Homo sapiens: one gene and its partner. The protein of the gene in region 2 interacts with the protein of the main gene of each other region in a pairwise test. Each region holds a gene or a part of one and is shown on either strand. Other genes may lie near its edges. The genes, in order: EPB41 and RWDD2B.

Region 1 (9,714 bases), on a different chromosome or scaffold from region 2:
ATTTCTACACCCATCATGAAATAAAATAAAATGTCACTTTCCGATTTCTTCTTTCATCTTTGGTGATCAACAAACTTTCAGGTGGCTACATAGTTTAAGCAGAAAATATGATTTATAAAATTCCTGTTCTTCAATTTGTCAGTTTACATATGTAATACACATATACTAGTTTAGAAATTGTGTTACAATTCAAAGCAAAATTCTACCTTCCTTCCATCTCATATTCCCCATCTCCATCCTACACATCACATTCTTCATTTTTGGTGCAATATATCCTGTAGCATGCTATGAGCAACTGTCAGTTACCGTGACTACTTAAATTACTGAATCAACTGTCCAGAGTGACATTTAATTGTGGCTGTGGAAATCATTAGACTCTATCATTTTCAGACCAAATGTCCCAAAGAAAATGAGGTATGCCTCAACTCCCTACAATCTCTTTCAGAAAAATGAATAAAGTAAAATTCTAGATAGCCAACAGACACTACCTGTTGAAGTGGCTCCTTCAGTGGTGCTAGGAATAATTTTCTTAATGTTTCTTAACCTAGAAAGTCAAACCATTCCCAAATTTGGGTTCTTTTACTCCTATTTATAGGAAGAAAATACCCTAACTTAAAGACTGAGATTTAGTCAGAAAGTCCTGGCTCCTCCATTTACTAGCTAAACAAGCTGAGTAGATTCAATTAACTTTTCTGAACATTAGTTTGCTCAGCTGTGAAATGATAAGAATATTTACACTCATCCTACCTCTTTATTGGAATTGTTTAACAATAATCAAATATGTGAATGTCTTCTGAGAAATATATATGAAAATACTTCAAAAAATTAGAATCATTTTTTGGGCAAACATATATGACATGTCCTCCTCTCAATGAGATGAGTTATTTTTAATGACTATTAATAATTCACATAAATGTTCATTCATTGTCAGTCTTAACTCATCCATATCAAATAATTTTCTTTTTTTCTCCCATGTTTTCATTCTAAATGACAGAAGATGATTTGAAAATGCTTCATGTATTTTCCCTAATCCCTTATTCATAATTCTAAAATCCAAATGGCAAATTTTGACTTGAACTGTAAAGAGACTATTTATAATCTTAATTTATCCACCTCAGAATGAATCTTCATATCTTTTACCATAGAAATACTATGTCTGATCATGTGGGTGCTGCTACAGACACTGCTGGGTTTATTATAAAATATGCAGAATATGTACTTATTCCCTTGCTAAACTCCAAAATATTCTGAATTCTAGTTTTTATTTTGTTTTGTTTTGAGACGGAGTCTCACTCTGTCGCCAGGCTGGAGTGCAGTGGTGTGATCTCAGCTCACTGCAACCTCTACCTCCTGGGTTCAAGCGATTCTCCTGCCTCAGCCTCCCAAGCAGCTGGGACTACAGGTGCGTGCCACCACACCCAGCTAATTTTTGTATTTTTAGTAGAGACGGGGTTTCACCATGTTGGTCAGTATGGTCTCGATTTCTTGACCTCGTGATCCACCTGCCTCGGCCTCCCAAAGTGCTGGGATTACAGGCATGAGCCACCGTGCCCGGCCTCAAAATATTCTGAATTCTATGACACATCTGTCCCCAAGGGCTTCATATATAAGAGATCCATATCTGGATCTTGGTCTGAATGGGAAGAATAGGTGTAAAATAGCTTTCCCCATCTCTAAATTAGTTAGTGCAAGAAGCAGAAAAAGCAGACCCTAAGGCTCTAGTTAGGTGTATAGTACCTGTTTCAAAGTACAATTACATCTTTCTTGATTTCCTTTTTAAACTTAGAGAATACCTATTAGTAAATATAGCATAATATTTTAGATGATTTGTGATTGAACATATTTACATTTGCAAATAAATAATGTGATTAAGAAATAAGGCTGGGTGCGGTGACTCATGCCTATAATCTTAGTACTTTGGGAGGCTGAGGCAGGCAGATCGCTTGAGCCGGGGAGCTCAAGAGTAACCTGGGCAACATGGTGAGAACCTGTCTCTACAAAAAATATAAAAAATTAGCCAGGTGTGATGGTATGTGCCTGTAGTCCCAGCTACTCAGGAGGCTGAGGTGGGAGGATCACCTGAGCCCAGGAGGTTGAGGCTGCAGTGAGCTGTCACTGCGCCACTGCACTTCAACCTGGGCAACAGAGCAAGACCCTGTCTCAAATAAATAAATAAATAAATAAATAAATAAATAAATAAATAAAATAGTTTGTTCCACATATATGTGAATTACACACTTTGTCAATAAAAGCTGTTACTAGTAACAATTGCAATTGCTTATATATCAAGCATATCATAATAAACAACTACTGTTCCAGTTTGAAAAATATATAGTTAGTAGATTTTTTTAAAATTTCAACTTGCTCTGGCCGGGCGCGGTGGCTCAAGCCTGTAAACCCAGCACTTTGGGAGGCCGAGGCGGGCAGATCACGAGGTCAGGAGATCGAGACCAGCCTGGCTAACACGGTGAAACCCCGTCTCTACTTAAAACACAAAAAACTAGCCAGGCGTGGTGGCGGGTGCCTGTAGTCCCAGCTACTCTGGAGGCTGAGGCAGGAGAATGGCGTGAACCCAGGAGGCAGAGCTTGCAGTGAGCCGAGATTGTACCACTGCACTCCAGCCTGGACGACAGAGAGAGACTCTGTCTCAAAAAACAAACAAACAAAAAAAAAATTGTCAACTTGTCCTGAAGGAGCAAAAAGAGTAACTGAATAACTCTGATATTTTTCTTCAATCCTGATTCAATCACTTATTCTTTCAGAAAACAGAAAATTTTAAGAAATGGCATTTACTGGACTTAAAGACTTACTCATCATCTTCCCATAATCCCACCTCCAGAAAATCACCATTAATACTTCCATCTACAGAAATAATCATTAAAGGCCGGGCGCAGTGGCTCATGCCTGTAATCCCAGCAATTTGGGAGGCCGAGGTGGGCAGATCACTTGAGGCCCGGACTTCAAGACCAGCCTGACCAATATGGTGAAATCTGTCTCTACTAAAAATACAAAAAATTAGCCTGGCATGGTGGCACATGGCTGTAATCCCAGCTACTCGGGAGGCTGAGACAGGAGAATCACTTGAACATGGGAGTTGGGGGCTACAGTGAGCCAAGATCATGCCACTGCACTCCAGCCTGGGTGACAGAGCAAAACTCTGTCTCAAAAAAAAAAAAAAAAAGAAAAAAGAAATAATCACTACAGTGAGTCTTATCGTGGGCAAAATCACCACTTACGCAACTCTAGATGAAACCACCTGTAAGAGTTCTGATTGTTGGAAATGAAAACATACTCACCTCCACAACACATTCATAAACTGTGTCATCCAACAAAGAAACCTTGCAGTGCATGTTCCTGTGTTTTCTGATTGGTTTTTGGGAAGCTTTTAATTCTGTTTCTGCTTTTGATTGAGGGCTTTCTTCTTTTACTTCTATTTTGGAGCACTCTTCAAGTCCTTCTCCTTCCTTAATTTCAAAATCTGGATCTTCTCTGAGTTCTTCCTGAGCAGGCTACATATCCATGACATCGCCAAGTCAGTAATAAACACATTTCACAAAACATGCTGTATATGCTTTTACCTATAATAATCTTACCAATAAAAGCATGAACTAAAACAAATATAGGTGACATTAATATTAAATATTTTTCTATAAAAAATAGTATGATCCCCCAAATGCCCTAAAGACTTTGTTATTAAAACTTCTCAGGTAGAATCCCATCAAATCAATAAATGAAGGTCTCAGGTAAACCGGAGGATACCAATCCATTGCTCTCAGCATTATATATTCTTCCTGACCAAGCCATTACACGGTATTATTAAAGTTTAACAAAAACGTTATTGTCTCTGCCCATGCTCCTCAATTTTAGCAATGTAGCCTTACAAACTGCAAAATAAGATGTGACTTGTTACATATTCTAAATTTTAAATTAATTTTAATTCTAAGAGAAATGCTTGGGACCAATTTCACATCATTAAGCAAACATGTAGTAGGCTAAAAATTTTAACTACCAGCTAACACCTTTCTACCCAATATTAATCATGTTAAATGCAAAGAAGAGTCAATGAAGGAAGAGTTTCCTGGTGCAATCTTAAATTATCCCCAAATAATACCGATAAGTAGGATAACATTTTTGGTATACATTTTTTTTTGAGACGGAGTCTCACTCTGTAGCCCAGGCTGGAGTGCAGTGGCGCGATCTCGGCTTACTCCAAGCTCCGCCTCCAGGGTTCAAGCGATTCTCCTGCCTGGGCCTCCTGAATAGCTGGGACTACAGGCGCCCGCCACCACGCCCAGCTAATTTTTTTGTACTTTTAGTAGAGATGGGGTTTCACCACGTTAGCCAGGATGGTTTTGATCTCCTGACCTCATGATCTGCCCGCCTCGGCCTCCCAAAGTGTTGGGATTACAGGCGTGAGCAACCGTGCCTGGCCGGCATACATTTTTACTTTTACTTTCAACACAACAAAACTACCGACATATTTTTATCTAAACCCGACTAATTATTTTCTTTTAAAAGAATATGTTACTTCCTTGTGTAACAGCTGGAAAACAATTAAAAGAAAAAAAGAATGCATGGTTGACAATTAGGAAAAAGAAATTAATTATTTGACTCCTGCATTAAATACTGGAAGTAATCTAAAAGACTCCTTCCGATCTTTCATGACCCTCTCACTGCAACCTCAGGAAGTCTCTTCACTGGCTATCCTATCTATCTATGCCCGCTCTACTGTCTTTCATATCAGTACTCTGGTGGCTTTATAACTTATTACAATAAATAATTATTTTTATTTGCTACTTTTTTGTCTTCTCTATTAAAGTCCACAAGGGTAGAAATCATGTCTGTTTTATAATAATAATAATACCAAACATTTATACAACAATTACAATGGGCCAGTCACTATTCTAAGAAAATTACTTATGTGAACTAACTCAATCCTCATAACTACCCTGCGAGGCACGTAGTATTATTATATCCCCACTTGATAGAGGGAGGATAATAGTACCTGGCCTGCAGGGTTGTAAAACAGGCCAGAGAAATTAAGTAACTTGCCTAGGATCATACAATTAATAAGTCACATACCAGTCTGGCTTCAGAATCCACGATTTGTTTTTTTTGCTTTTTTTTTTTTTTTTTGAGACAAGAGTCTCACTCTATCACCCAGGCTGGAGTGCAGTGACATAATCATGGCTCAATGCAGCCTCGACCTCTCAGACTCAAGTGATCCTCCCACCTCAACATCCCAAGTAGCTGGGACTACAGGAGAGCCACCATGCCTAGCTAGTTTTTTACTTTTTTGTAGAGATGGTGTTTCTCCATGTTGCCCAGGTTGGTCTCGAACTCCGGGGCTCTAGTGATCCTCCTGCCTCAGTCTCCCAGAGTGCTGGATTTACAGGCATGAGCCACCACACTCAGCCCCAAAATCCATGATTTTAAACCTCTTCACCATATTGCAGTTTTTATTTACCAAGGTATATCCAGCCTAGGGCCTGGCACACATGGTAGGTTTTCAATAAATATTTGTTGAATGAATAAACAAACATTAAAAATTTACATAGGCTTCCAAAAAATCCAAGCTACTCTGGATGAAGACTGGTACAATCCTATATTTATATATATTATACACTTAAATGTAATATAAATATATATTTATATATTTATAATATAAAGCAAACACGCTTTTTAAAAAATTCTGGATAAAAAAGAACCATTTAAATAAAATCCTATTACATATACAGAAACATGGTTAGGCAAATAAACCTTTATCCAGACGACTCTGATCCACAAGGTTTTGACTATAAATATTAGTTTCCAAAAGGCCTAAAATAGTTTGTTCTTTTAAATAATATCTCCTTGAAATTTTACTAACAATATCGTTTCTTTTTCTCCACATGAAGACAAATAACCTACGGACAATTTATTTCAATTCGGAATTAAATCTTAATGAATGAGATTTTAGTTAAATCTAAAATTAACTGTCCATCATCTGTGTCAACTTGAGTACGAATCTATGAACTTTAGACAATGCAGACAAGTTCTGATTCAAATGTTAACTAAAACAAGATATGGATTTTCCCCTATATAAAGCTGAAGGAGAAAAAAGCAGTTAAAAACCCCTTGAGGCCAGGCACAGTGGTCATGCCTGTAATCCCAGCATTCTGGAAGGCTGAGGCAGAAGGATTGCTCGAGTTCAGGAGTTCAAGACCAGCCTAGGCAACAAAGCAAGACCGTCTCTACCAAAAAATTTAAAAATTAGCTGGGCATGTGGCATGCACCTGTAGTCCCAACTACTCAGGAGACTGAGATGGGAGGATAGCTTGAGCCCGGGAGGTTGAGGCTGTAGTGAGCCATGATCACACCACTGTATTCTAGTCTGGGTGACAGAGAGAGACCCTGTCAAGAAAGAAAGAAAAAAAGAAAATAAATAAAGAGGGGGAAGGAGGGAGGGAGGGGAAAGGAGGGAGGCAGAGGAAGAGAGGAAGGGAGGGAGGGAGGGAGGGAGGGAAGGAAGGAAGGAAGGAAGGAAGGAAGGAAGGAAGGAAATTTGAAAAACTCTTGAAAGTACCAGGCTTCCTGAAAGATAATGTAATTTTTTTTTTTTTTTTTTGAGATGGAATCTCGCACTGTCACCCAGGCTGGAGTGCAGTGGCGTGATCTCGGCTCTCAGCAAATTTTCCTGCCTCGCCTTCCGAGTAGCTGGGACTACAGGTGCCCGCCACCACGCCCAGCTAATTTTTTGTATTTTTTGTAGAGACAGGGTTTCACCATGTTGGCCAGGATGGTCTCAAACTCCTGACCTTGTGATTCGCCTGCCTCAGCCTCCTAGAGTGCTAGGATTACAGGTGTGAGCCACTGCGCCCGGCCGATAATGTAATTTAATTCTTTTGGTATTCCTAAAATAAAATGTTATTAAGATATGAATGGTTTCTTTGCCTTTACTGTTTGTGTTTATTTACTAGCTAACATTCATTGAGTATTTATTAAATGCCAGGCAATGTTTTAAGAGCTTTTACCGGTTTCACTCTTTTAATCCTTTCAATCCCAAATGAGGTGGATATTATTATCCCCATTGTACAGAGGAGGAAACTGATAAAGTGAAAAGTGTCACTTTTCTTCGATTTGAACCCTCTAGTCGGATTCTATAGCTTGCATCTTAACTATTACAGAACATAGTAAATCTTGTTTTCAACCTTGTTTCACTAACAGCAAGTGTGCAATTATAATTTTATCCTAAATTTTACCCTCAGCACTTTGAATATACAAGTAATAGTTCTAGAAATACATGTAATATTCTAATAAGACTCTAATAAAACTATGGAGTCCAAATCTCAGACCTATAATAGAAACATGTAGGACTTTTACTTTTTTCCCCCCAACACTGTCAGAGTTCTAGAAGGACTTACACTTTTAACGATGCAGATAATATTCACATGCTTCAGAAATAAGAAGACTCTGAAAATAATTCTTAATTGTAATGGTGAGGCTGAAAATAAATGACATTCTCAGAAAATAGTCTGAGTTACAGTACTAATGTTTTCCCATTTTTTGGGACAAATAAACTCACAACTCGTGTTTAGTTTAACAACACTATGTCACAATTAAGGCCCCAGACTAATATACATTACACAGGTGATAGAAAGAGCTAGACTTCCTCATCTGTATCTTACACTCTGTGGCAATATGCTCTAGTTAAAGAAGATGATCAAAATAAGGTAGACATGACTTGAATCTATCACATACCTTCAAAGGGCTTGAATTCATCACACAGCTTTTAGGAAGATTTACGTAAAAGAACCACATCTGCTGATAACCGTCCTGTTCCTAATAATTCCACAAAAATGAACTCTAAACCATCTCATCTTTCTTTTCCTCTCTCATGAGAAATCTTCAATTTGTTCCATTATTATAATAAAATGATATATGGGCTGAACACATTGATTTGATACTTTTTTTTTCTCTACTATTCTTTGATTTATAAACAGTAAATGGACAGGCATGGTGGTACACACCTGTAATGCCAGCTGCTCAGGAGGCTGAGGTGGGAGGATCACTTGAGCCCAGGAGTTTGAGATTAGCCTGGGCAAAATAGCAAGACCCTTTAATACATATAAAGTGTAAGTAACTGTTTAAAAAGTAAGTTTCCAATGACTACATTAATTTTTTTAGAGTAGAAACTATAAGCCGGGCATGGTGGCTCACGTCTGTAGTCCCAGCACTTTGGGAGGCTGAGGTGGACAGATTACCTGAGGTCAAGAGTTTGTGACCAGCCTGGCCAACACAGCAAAACGCTGTCTCTACTAAAAATACAAAAATTAGCTGGGCATGGTGGCCAGCGCCTGTAATCCCAGCTACTCGGGAGGCTGAGGCAGAAGAATAGCTTGAACCCAGGACGGGGAGGTTGCAGTGGGCCGAGATCACACCACTGCACTCCAGCCTGGGTGACAGAGCAAGACTCAGTCTCAAAAAAAAAATAGAGTAGAAACTATAAAGCTTTATGATGCTACTTATCACTATCAATGCCTAAGTCAACTAGCTAGTAAGAAATAAAACCAAGTACTTTTTTTATCCCCCCGTTGTTGAGACGGAATCTCATCCTTGTTGCCTAGGCTGGAATGCAGTGGCACGATCTCAGCTCACTGCAGCCTCCGCCTCCCGAGTTCAACTTCTCCTGTCTCAGCCTCCTGAGTAGCTGGGATTACAGGCACCCGCCATCAGGCCCGGCTAATTTTTGTACTTTTAGTAGAGACAGGGTTTGGCCATGTTGGCCAGGCTGGTCTCGAACTCCTGACCTCAGTTGATCCGCCTGCCTCGGCCTCCCAAAGTGGTGGAATTACAGGCATGAGCCACCGCGCCCAGCCCAAATACTCTTAAATGAAAAATAAAGTGTATAACCTGCCTTCCTTTGCCCACCTCCCATATCCACACATCCTTACCTGTGTTTCTGCACTGCTTAATGAATGAAGATCCAAAGATGGGTCTGTTTTGAGTTCCGGTTCAGGAGCTGCAATTGGGGCCTTTAAAATGATCTCTTCATCAAGACTGGTTCCAAATTCTATCTCTTTCTGACCTCCTTCACCTTTTTCTTTATCTGACTCTACTTCTTTGCCTTCTTCCTCGGACACCTGAGATTTGGGCCTTTTGAGAAACGAGGAGAATAGTCGTGAAAGTCCTCTGCTTTCTGATGTCCGCTCCTTGTTCTTGGTCAAGTCTTCATGTGTAGGAGTGTCTCCATTAGAAGCTTTCAGCTTCTGTTCACACCAATTATCTCCTTCAGCTGCTGTTTGACAAGATTCCTCCTGCTGAGGTTCTTGTTGGCCTGAGTTTATGGCTTCCTCACCCTCTTCCTTCTGTTGGTGCTGTGAATTTTCGGCCTCAGTCACTAAACTCTTCTCTGTTGTCATGATGTTGCTATTAAAAAGAAGATAGAAAAGGGGGGCTCTTATAAGCAAAACACATTACTGTTGGCAAAACCCTAAACCCTAAAAAATTAATATACTTAGGTATTTAATTGCCAACAAACAGAATTCAAACCCATTAAACATGAGACTTTCCATTAAATTACAAAAATATCTTATCTACACATCCTGAATAAAATATTAATGCCTTGAGTCACTAAAGATATGCACACAGAGAGAGTAGCTTAAAATAGTACCCACGGAGGCCACCTTAGTGAAATACATCACATATTAAATCCAATGCCTAGAACTGTATACA
Region 2 (9,714 bases):
GTGCTTCCTGTGGTGGGTGAAGATGAAGTATCTCTGCTGACATAGCCAGAGGCGTGTTCTCTAACCCACTCTGTGGCATTCAGTATACAAACATCTCCATGACAATGTTTTTGCAGGAATGCAGTCAGATCTGTGTTCAGCTGAGTCTGCTGGGATCTACTCAATAATACTGATCTAATAGAAAAGATACAAGAAAAATATTGTCTTGGAACAGAAAACAAATTCGAGAATTGCTTTTATTCTCAGATTAATTTTGACCTCCAAAGTTGGCCAGAGCTTCTGTAACGTACCTGACAGTAATTTCAGGCAGAACTGCCGGGTATTTAAAGGGAAGAATACAGGCCAGAGAAAACATCGCCTGATTAAAGAGAAGAAGAAAAAGTGCACTAACCAATGTTTTAAGTCTCAACATGTTTCAATCCCTCTAAAAGCAAAACTGAATTACCATTTTTTCGTCAGATACATCCAGGTTCATATTGATAGTAAAGTAGACTTTTGAAGATCGCCCCTCCATTGTCTTCTTTTCAATACAATCTTTCAGTTCTGCTACAGCCAGCTGGTCATTCACTATGAGCTCATTCTCACCAGGGAACATACTGGCTAGCAGGTCTAACTCAGCAAGCTGGGCCTCCGCCTGCTCCATCTCAATCATTTTTGGACATGTGTAAGTTTCTAAGGAGGTAAAGATAAGAGAGACAATTTACATATGCAATCTTGGAAGAAATGAATACATCAACATGTGTACTTACTAAAATTGTACTTGGTTTCTTCATAAATTGTACAATTTAATTAGTCTCTTTCCCTATTACTCTACTTTCAGATATAATATGCTAAGTCCTATGCTAAGACCAGCCTGAGCAACATACTGAGACCATCTATAAAAAAACAAACACAAAAAAACTCTTAATAGTAAGTAGACACCACATTCTTCTGTGTCTAGATAGTTGAGTGGACAACTTGAGCTACCATAATGGGCAATTTCATCAAAGTAAACCAATTATGTAGTCAAAAAGCTGTATCAATAATGTAGCCAGAAGAGAGGATATGACTGGTTACACTGGAAACCTAGAATGAACAAAGTCAGTCAGAGAGTTTGGTTACGTGGATGGTCAATTTCTTCTTTTTAAGTAAATATTAATGTTTATTAGGTTTTTTTGAGACAGGGTCTAGCTCTGTCACCACAGCTGGAGTGCAGTGGCATGATCCCCGCTCACTGCAACCTCAACCTCCCACGCCCAAGCAATCCTCCCACCTCAGACTTCTGAGTAGCTAGGACCACAGGTATGCACTGCCACGCCCGGCTTCATTTTTTATTTGTAGAAACAAGGTCTTGCTATGTTGTCCAGACTGGTCTTGACCTCCTGGGCTCAAGCAATCCTCCTGCCTTGGCCTCCCAAAGTGCTAGCATTACAGGTATGAGCCACTGTGCATGGCATTTATTAGTTTTTTTTTTTTTTTTTTTGAAACGGAGTCTCGCTCTGTCACCCAGGCTGTAGTGCAGTGGCGCAATCTTGGTTCACTGCAAGCTCCACCTCGGCGCGTTCACGCCATTCTCCTGCCTCAGCCTCCCAAATAGCTGGGACTACAGGCGCCCAACACCACACCCGGTTAATTTTTTGTATTTTTAGTAGAGATGGGGTTTCACCGTGTTAGCCAGGATGGTCTTGATCTCCTGACCTCATGATCCGCCCGCCTCGGCCTCCCAAAGTGCTGGGATTACAGGTGTGAGCCACTGCGCCCGGCCTATTTATTAGTTTTTAAGAAGCAGAGGAACATAAAGAGAAAATAAGTGTTAATTGTCCTGTAGCTTAAGTCACCCCTGTTAACATTAAAACATCTTAAGCATTATACATATATATATGTGAAAAATGCTGGTATAATGTATAAATATGTACAATGTGAGATATATACAGTATACATATTTAAATCCAAAGGGGATAATATATACTTTTTCCTCCTATTTCCTATCTCCCTCCCCACCAAATATATTTTGTAGATCTATTCACTGTCAACATATAGTGATCTACCTCATTCTTTGTAACTGTCGGCTGTTATACTGAATCATGTAGATATGCCATAACTTATTTAATTCTTTACCTATTGATGGACACTTGGGTTGTTTCCACATTTTTACTAATATGAACAATCCTATAATGCAAGGTCTTTTTATATATATAGTATGGTAAACTGAATACTGTGTATTCAATAATAAACTTACAGAGGTGGATTGTTGTATCAACATGTACATTTTAAATTTTGATAGATATTGCCAAGTTACTTTCCAGAAAGTTGCCATACAGAACAGAAATTTACAATTGTACTCAGTCCCCTGCTTCTTTTCTTTAAAAGAAAATTCTTAATACATAGTTCCTTTTGGCCTAGCACGGTGGCTCACACCTGTAATCCCACCACTTGGGGAGGCCAAGGAGGGTGGATAGCTTGAGTCCAGGAGTTTTAGATCAGCCTGGGTAACATAACGAAACCCTGTCTCTACTAAAAAATACAACAAAATTACCCGGGTGTGTTGGTGCGTGCCTGAAGTCCCAGCTACTTGGGAGGCTGAGACAGAATCACTGGAACCTGGGAGTCAGAGGTTGCAGTGAGTTGAGATCGTGCCATTGCACTCCAGCCTGGGCAAAAAGAGTGAAACTCCGTCTCAAAAAATAAAAATAAAAAAAAAAAACCAAAAAAAACCCTCTCCCTCTCCCTCTCCCGTCTCCCCATGGTCTCCCTCTCCCTCTCTTTCCACGGTCTCCCTCTGATTCCGAGCCGAAGCTGGACGGTACTGCTGCCATCTCGGCTCACTGCAACCTCCCTGCCTGATTCTCCTGCCTCAGCCTGCCGAGTGCCTGCGATTGCAGGCGCGCGCCGCCACCCCTGACTGGTTTTCGTATTTTTTTGGTGGAGACGGGGTTTCGCTGTGTTGGCCGGGCTGGTCTCCAGCTCCTAACCGCGAGTGATCCGCCAGCCTCGGCCTCCCGAGATGCGGGGATTGCAGACGGAGTCTGGTTCACTCAGTGCTCAATGGTGCCCAGGCTGGAGTGCAGTGGCGTGATCTCGGCTCGCTACAACCTCCACCTCCCAGCAGCCTGCCTTGGCCTCCCAAAGTGCCGAGATTGCAGCCTCTGCCCGGCCGCCACCCCGTCTGGGAAGTGAGGAGCGTCTCTGCCCGGCCACCCATCGTCTGGGATGTGAGGAGCCCCTCTGCCTGGCTGCCTAGTCTGGAAAGTGAGGAGCGTCTCTGCCCAGCCGCCCTGCCATCTAGGAAGTGAGGAGCGCCTCTTCCCAGCCGCCATCCCATGTGGGAAGTGAGGAGCGTCTCTGCCCGGCCGCCCATCGTCTGAGATGTGGGGAGCACCTCTGCCCTGCCGCCCCGTCCGGGATGCGAGGAGCGTCTCTGCCCGGCCACCCGGTCTGAGAAGTGAGGAGACCCTCTGCCTGGCAACCACCCCGTCTGAGAAGTGAGGAGCCCCTCCGCCCGGCAGCCGCTGGGTCTGAGAAGTGAGGAGCCCCTCCGCCCAGCAGCCACCCCGTCTGGGAAGTGAGGAGCGTCTCTACCCGGCAGCCACCTCGTCCGGAAGGGAGGTGGGGGGGGGTCAGCCCCCCGCCCGGCCAGCCGCCCCTTCCGGGAGGGAGGTGGGGGGGGTCAGCCCCCCACCCGGCCAGCCGCCCCGTCCGGGAGGGAGGTGGGGGGGTCAGCCCCCCGCCCGGCCAGCCGCCCCGTCCGGGAGGTGAGGGGCGCCTCTGCCCGGCCGCCCCTACTGGGAAGTGAGGAGCCCCTCTGCCCGGCCAGCCGCCCCGTCCGGGAGGGAGGTGGGGGGGTCAGCCCCCCGCCCGGCCAGCCGCCCCGTCTGGGAGGTGAGGGGCGCCTCTGCCCGGCCGCCCCTACTGGGAAGTGAGGAGCCCCTCTGCCCGGCCAGCCGCCCCGTCCGGGAGGGAGGTTGGGGGGTCAGCCCCCCGCCTGGCCAGCCGCCCCATCCGGGAGGGAGGTGGGGGGGTCAGCCCCCGACCCGGCCAGCCGCGCCGTCCGGGAGGGAGGTGGGGGGGTCAGCCCCCCGCCCGGCCAGCCGCCCTGTCCGGGAGGTGAGGGGCGCCTCTGCCCGGCCGCCCCTACTGGGAAGTGAGGAGCCCCTCTGCCCGGCCAGCCGCCCCGTCCGGGAGGGAGGTTGGGGGGTCAGCCCCCCGCCCGGCCAGCCGCCCCGTCCGGGAGGGAGGTGGGGGTGGTCAGCCCCCCCCCGGGAGGTGAGGGGCGCCTCTGCCCGGCCGCCCCTACTGGGAAGTGAGGAGCCCCTCTGCCCGGCCACCACCCGGTCTGGGTGGTGTACCCAACAGCTCACTGAGAACGGGCCATGATGACAATGGCGGTTTTGTGGAATAGAAAGGGGGGAAAGGTGGGGAAAAGATTGAGAAATCGGATGGTTGCTGTGTCTGTGTAGAAAGAGGTAGACATGGGAGACTTTTCATTTTGTTCTGTACTAAGAAAAATTCTTCTGCCTTGGGATCCTGTAGATCTGTGACCTTACCCCCAACCCTGTGCTCTCTGAAACATGTGCTGTATCCACTCAGGGTTGAATGGATTAAGGGCGGTGCAAGATGTGCTTTGTTAAACAGATGCTTGAAGGCAGCATGCTCCTTAAGAGTCATCACCACTCCCTAATCTCAAGTACCCAGGGACACAAACACTGCGGAAGGCCGCAGGGTCCTCTGCCTAGGAAAACCAGAGACCTTTGTTCACTTGTTTATCTGCTGACCTTCCCTCCACTATTGTCCTGTGACCATGCCCAATCCCCCTCTGCGAGAAACACCCAAGAATGATCAATTAAAAAAAAAAAAGTCTTCTATTTTCTATTTGGAATACATTTTCAATTTCTGCATTTAAATATTTGATCCATCTGGGATATACTTCACTTTAAAAGGTGACGGAAGTTTCCAGCTTATTTTTTTTTTCCAGTTAACTAGCCATTTTTACCAGTACATCTTATAATAAATTTGAAATGTTTCTTTCAACATATGTTAAGTGCCTATATGTATTTGAGTCTTTTTCTGGATTCTCCATTTTGTTATATTGATCTGTCTATAATATCATGTCCTAATACTCTTTTTTTTTTTTTTTTTGAGACAGAGTCTCACTCTGTCACCCAGGCTGGAGTGCAGTGGTGCGATTATAGCTCGTTGCAGCCTCGAACTCCTAGGCTCAAGCAATCCTCCTGTCTCAGCCTCCCAAGTATCTGGGACTACAGTCATGCTACCACCATACCCAGCTAACTAATACTCAACTCTTGAAATCACTATGATGGGTTAGTAAATTGCTCCTACTCTGTCTCTTCATAGCCATCACTCTTCTTTTCTAGAATTCTTTTTTGGTATTTCCTGGCTTTTCTCACATATAAACATTAGAATAATTTTGTTAAGTTTTGAAAACAAGAAAAAATGGTAATTGCATTGAAATTAAAGATTAGGCCTGGCGCGGTAGCTCACGCCTGTAATCCCAACACTTTGGGAGGCAGAGGCGGGCGGATCATGAGGTCAGGAGATCCAGACCATCCTGGCTAACACAGTGAAACCCCACCTCTACTAAAAACACAAAAAATTAGCCGGGCGTGGTGGCCGGCGCCTGTAGTCCCAGCTACTCGGGAGGCTGAGGCAGGAGAATGGCGTGAACTCGGGAGGCGGAGCTTGCAGTGAGCCGAGATCGCGCCACTGCACTCCAGCCTGGGCGACAGAGTGAGACTCCGTCTCAAAAAAAAAAAAAAAAAAGAAATTAAAGATTAATACAGAAAAAGACGATATGTTTATAACGTAGAATTTTCCCTTCAGTAGTTTTTTTAATAGCTTTAATGAGGTATAATTTATATGCCATACCATACTACTGCCAAGCAAGATCTTTAAAATGTTAGCATCCCTTAAGGTTTGGTTGAGGACATCTTTATCTTCTCTATTGTCTCATGGTACCAAGTATTACTGAATATTAAATGTTCACAATTCTCAAATTCTTAGGATGTTCCAAATTCTCGAGCCCCATATTTGTAAATTTAACTATATCTGTATATTTCTATTGGATGTTATATTAGTTCATTTTCTGTTACGATAACAGACTACCTGAGACTGGGTAGTTTACGATGAAGAGAAATTTATTTGGCTTATTGTTCTGGAAGCAGGGAAATCCAAGAGAATGGTGCCTGCATTTTGCAAGGGCATTCTTACTGAGTCATCCCATGGCGGAAGGCAGAGGGCAAGAGAGAATGAGAGCAAGTGCAAGAGAGATGAAGGGGCCAAATGCATGCTTTTATCAGGAACCCACTCCCACAATAACTAACCCACTCCTGCAGTAACACCATTAATCCATTTGTGAGGGCCCTGTTCTTTGGGAACTTTTTCAACCCTGCCTTCTTTCTCTTCTTCTGAAATGCTGATGACAGGAATGTTACATTTTTTGTTATATCCCTGCATATCACTTAATCACCTCTGAAAGGTCCCACCACTCAACTCTATTGCTTTGGGATAAAGCTTCTAACACATGAACTTTGGGGCACACATTAAACCACAGCAGAGACCATCTCAGTCTTAACAGTCCTAAAATAGGTCTAAATGGCCTGGCGCAGTGGCTCACGCCTGTAATCCCAGCACTTTGGGAGGCCAAGGCAGGCAGATCATGAGGTCAGGAGATCAAGACCATCCTGGCTAACATGGTGAAACCCCATCTCTACTAAAAATACAAAAAATTAGCCGGGCGTGGTGGCGGGCACCTGTAGTCCCAGCTACTCAGGAGGCTGAGGCAGGAGAATGGCGTGAACCCAGGAGGCAGAGCTTTCAGTGAGCCGAGATACAGCCACTGCACTCCAGCCTGGGCGGCAGAGCGAGACTCCTTCTAAAAATAAAAAAATAAAAATAAATAAAGTAAAATAAAATAGGTCTAAATTATATTTCTTTAATAATAATTCTTTTATTATTTCTTTTCTGTTTAGAGAACCTATTTTAACCATTCTTTTAGGATAGGTCTGCTGGTGACAAATCTCCTAGATTTCCTTCATCTTAGAATGTCTTGATTTCCCCTTCATTTCTGCAGAATATTTTCACTGGATGCAGTATTCTGGCTTAACAGGTTTTTACTTTCAACAATTGAAAAATGCTGTGCCTCTTCACCTAGCCTCTCTGGTGACTGATGAGAAATCACTCTCATTTGAATTGTTTTCCTTTACAGATAAGGTTCATTTTTGTCACTAATTTTAAGAATTTTTCATTGTCTTTGGTTTTCAGAAGTTTGATTATGATGCGTTTTTTTTTTTTTTTTTTTTTTTGAGATGGGAGTCTCACTTTGTCACCCAGGCTGGAGTACAATGGTGCAATCTTGGCTTATTGCAACCTCCACCTCCCAGGTTCAAGCAATTCTCCTGCCTCAGCCTCCTGCGTAGCTGGGATTACAGGCGCACACCACTACGCCCAGCTAATTTTTGTATTTTTAGTAGAGATGGGGTTTCACCATGTTGGGCAGGCTGGTCTCGAAATCCTGACCTTGTGATCCACCCGCGTTGGCCTCCCAAAGTGCTGTGATTACAGGTGTGAGCCGCCACACCTAGTCTTTTTTTTTTTTTTTTTTGAGATGGAGTTTTGCTCTTGTTGCCCAGGCTGGAGTGCAATGGCACAATCTTGGCTCACCACAACCTCCGCCTCCTGGGTTCAAGTGATTCTCTTGCCTCAGCCTCCCGAATAGCTGGGATTACAGGTGTTCGCCACCACGCCCAGCTAATTTTTTGTATTTTTAGTAGAGAAAGGGTTTTATCATGTTGGCCAGGCTGGTCTCAAACTCCTGACCTCAGGTGATCTACCTACCCTGGCCTTCCAAAGTGCTGGGATTACAGGCGTGAGCCACCATGCCCAGCCCCATATGGTTTAGGTATTTATCCTAGACAAAAGCAATCCTAATTAGGCGAGAGACTATATGGGCACAATTCTTATTTGTGACTTCTCAGAGTCTTAAACTGTGAATTTCCAAGAGGGGTGTTCAGTATTCTGTCTGACTCCAGAACATGTTTTTCCAGGCCAAATGACATTAGCCCTCCTCTCCACAGAACAGAGCAGGATTCCTTATTTTGCCATGTAGTTACCTGAATTTAAGTAGTTTAAATATAAGCATTTAAAGTATCATAAAAGATGGTGGGTAGCCTTGATAATATTTATACATATATTAACATATATTTATTAATATGTCTATTCATGTTTAATTTGAAGTTTTCCTCTTCTAATAACTGTTGGAACTGCAAATATTCCTCCCTCCTTTAATCGCAATGTTTTCTTTTGTTTTTTTTCCGATTTTTTATTTATTTATTTTTTTGAGACGGAGTTTCGCTCTTGTTGCCCAGGCTGGAGTGAAATGGTGCAATCTCGGCTCACTGCAATCTCCACCTCCCAGGTTCAAGCGATTCTCCTGCCTCAGCCTCCCAAGTAGCTAGGATTACAGGCATGCGCCACCACACCCAGCTAATTTTTTGTATTTAGTAGAGATGGAGTTACACCATGTCAGTTGGGCTAGTCTCAAACTCCCGACCTCAGGTGATTCACCCGCCTTGGCCTCCCAGAGTGCTGGGATTACAGGCATGAGCCACTGCTCCCGGCCTTTTTTTTTTTAAACAAAATCCTCATACATACTTAAAATCCCTGGACTTATTGGAATTCCATATACATATTTGCTGGTCTGTTTTGGAGTTGAGAAACATAAAAAACAACTACTTGGGTGGTTATTAGAGGAAATGGTTTACTTTGTTTTTTTGTTGGCGTGGCTCTGTTACCAGTGTTTTTGGATTCTATTACCAGATTGCCAAGGTGCGACTCCTGGCTCTGCCACTTACCAACTGCAGGACCTTAGGCAAGTGGCTTAATTTATCTGTGCTTTAGTCTCCCCAACTCCATAACTGGGATGAGAGGGTTGCTGTGATGATTAGATGAGAATTTGTGGAAAGTGCCTGGCAACAGTAAATTTTATATGCGTGCTTGCTACTATTATTATTAATTAAAAAAACCTTTTTTTTTGAGACAGGGTCTAGCTCTGTCACCCAGGCCAGAGTGCAGAGTCGGCTCACTACAACCTCTGCTTTCTGGGTTTTTTAGTAGAGACGGGGTTTCACCACGTTGGCCAGGCTGGTCTCGAACTCCTGCCGTCATGATCCACCCGCCCTGGGCTCCCAAAGTGCTGGGATTACAGGCATGAGCCACCGTGTCCGGCTGCTTATTACTATTATTATTATTGGTCATCATTTCAACAAATGTTTCTCAAGCACTTACGTTCAAGCACTGGCACTAAGATAACAATGAATGAAAGTAATAAAACAACTCTACTGGTGGGAGGATACCATGACATCAAAAACAAATTTATACGCCCAGCCCAGGTGCGGTGGTGGCTCACGCCTGTAATCCCAGCACTTTGGGAGGATGAGGTGGGCGGATCACCTAAGGTCAGGAGTTTGAGACCAGCCTGGCCAACATGATGAAACCCCATCTCTACTAAAAATACAAAAATTAGCCAGGTGTGGTCGCCCACGCCTGTAGTCCCAGCTACTAGGGAGGCTGAGGCAGGAGAATCGCTTGAACTGGGGAGGCGGAGGTTGCAGTGAGCTAAGATCATACCTCTGCACTCCAGCCAGAGCAACAGAGCAAGACTGTCTCAAAAAAAAACAAAAAAGAATTTTTGTACCCAGTGAATAACTGCTATGAAGAAAC

The links.
Region 1: the proteins of RWDD2B (region 2) and EPB41 interact in binary tests that used the Homo sapiens proteins (3 or more experiments, as listed by UniProt).

The regions. Positions count from the first base shown.
Region 1 is NC_000001.11:28,987,125-28,996,838, reverse strand, and holds part of EPB41 (protein 4.1), read right to left. Parts: intron 9,409-9,714; 5' UTR 9,402-9,408; coding exon 8,934-9,401; intron 7,484-8,933; exon of another isoform or gene 7,404-7,483; intron 3,510-7,403; coding exon 3,297-3,509; intron 1-3,296. UniProt on the Homo sapiens protein: Protein 4.1 is a major structural element of the erythrocyte membrane skeleton. It plays a key role in regulating membrane physical properties of mechanical stability and deformability by stabilizing spectrin-actin interaction. Recruits DLG1 to membranes.
Region 2 is NC_000021.9:29,007,950-29,017,663, forward strand, and holds part of RWDD2B (RWD domain-containing protein 2B), read right to left. Parts: exon of another isoform or gene 9,637-9,714; intron 1,744-9,636; exon of another isoform or gene 1,646-1,743; intron 673-1,645; coding exon 446-672; intron 359-445; coding exon 291-358; intron 175-290; coding exon 1-174.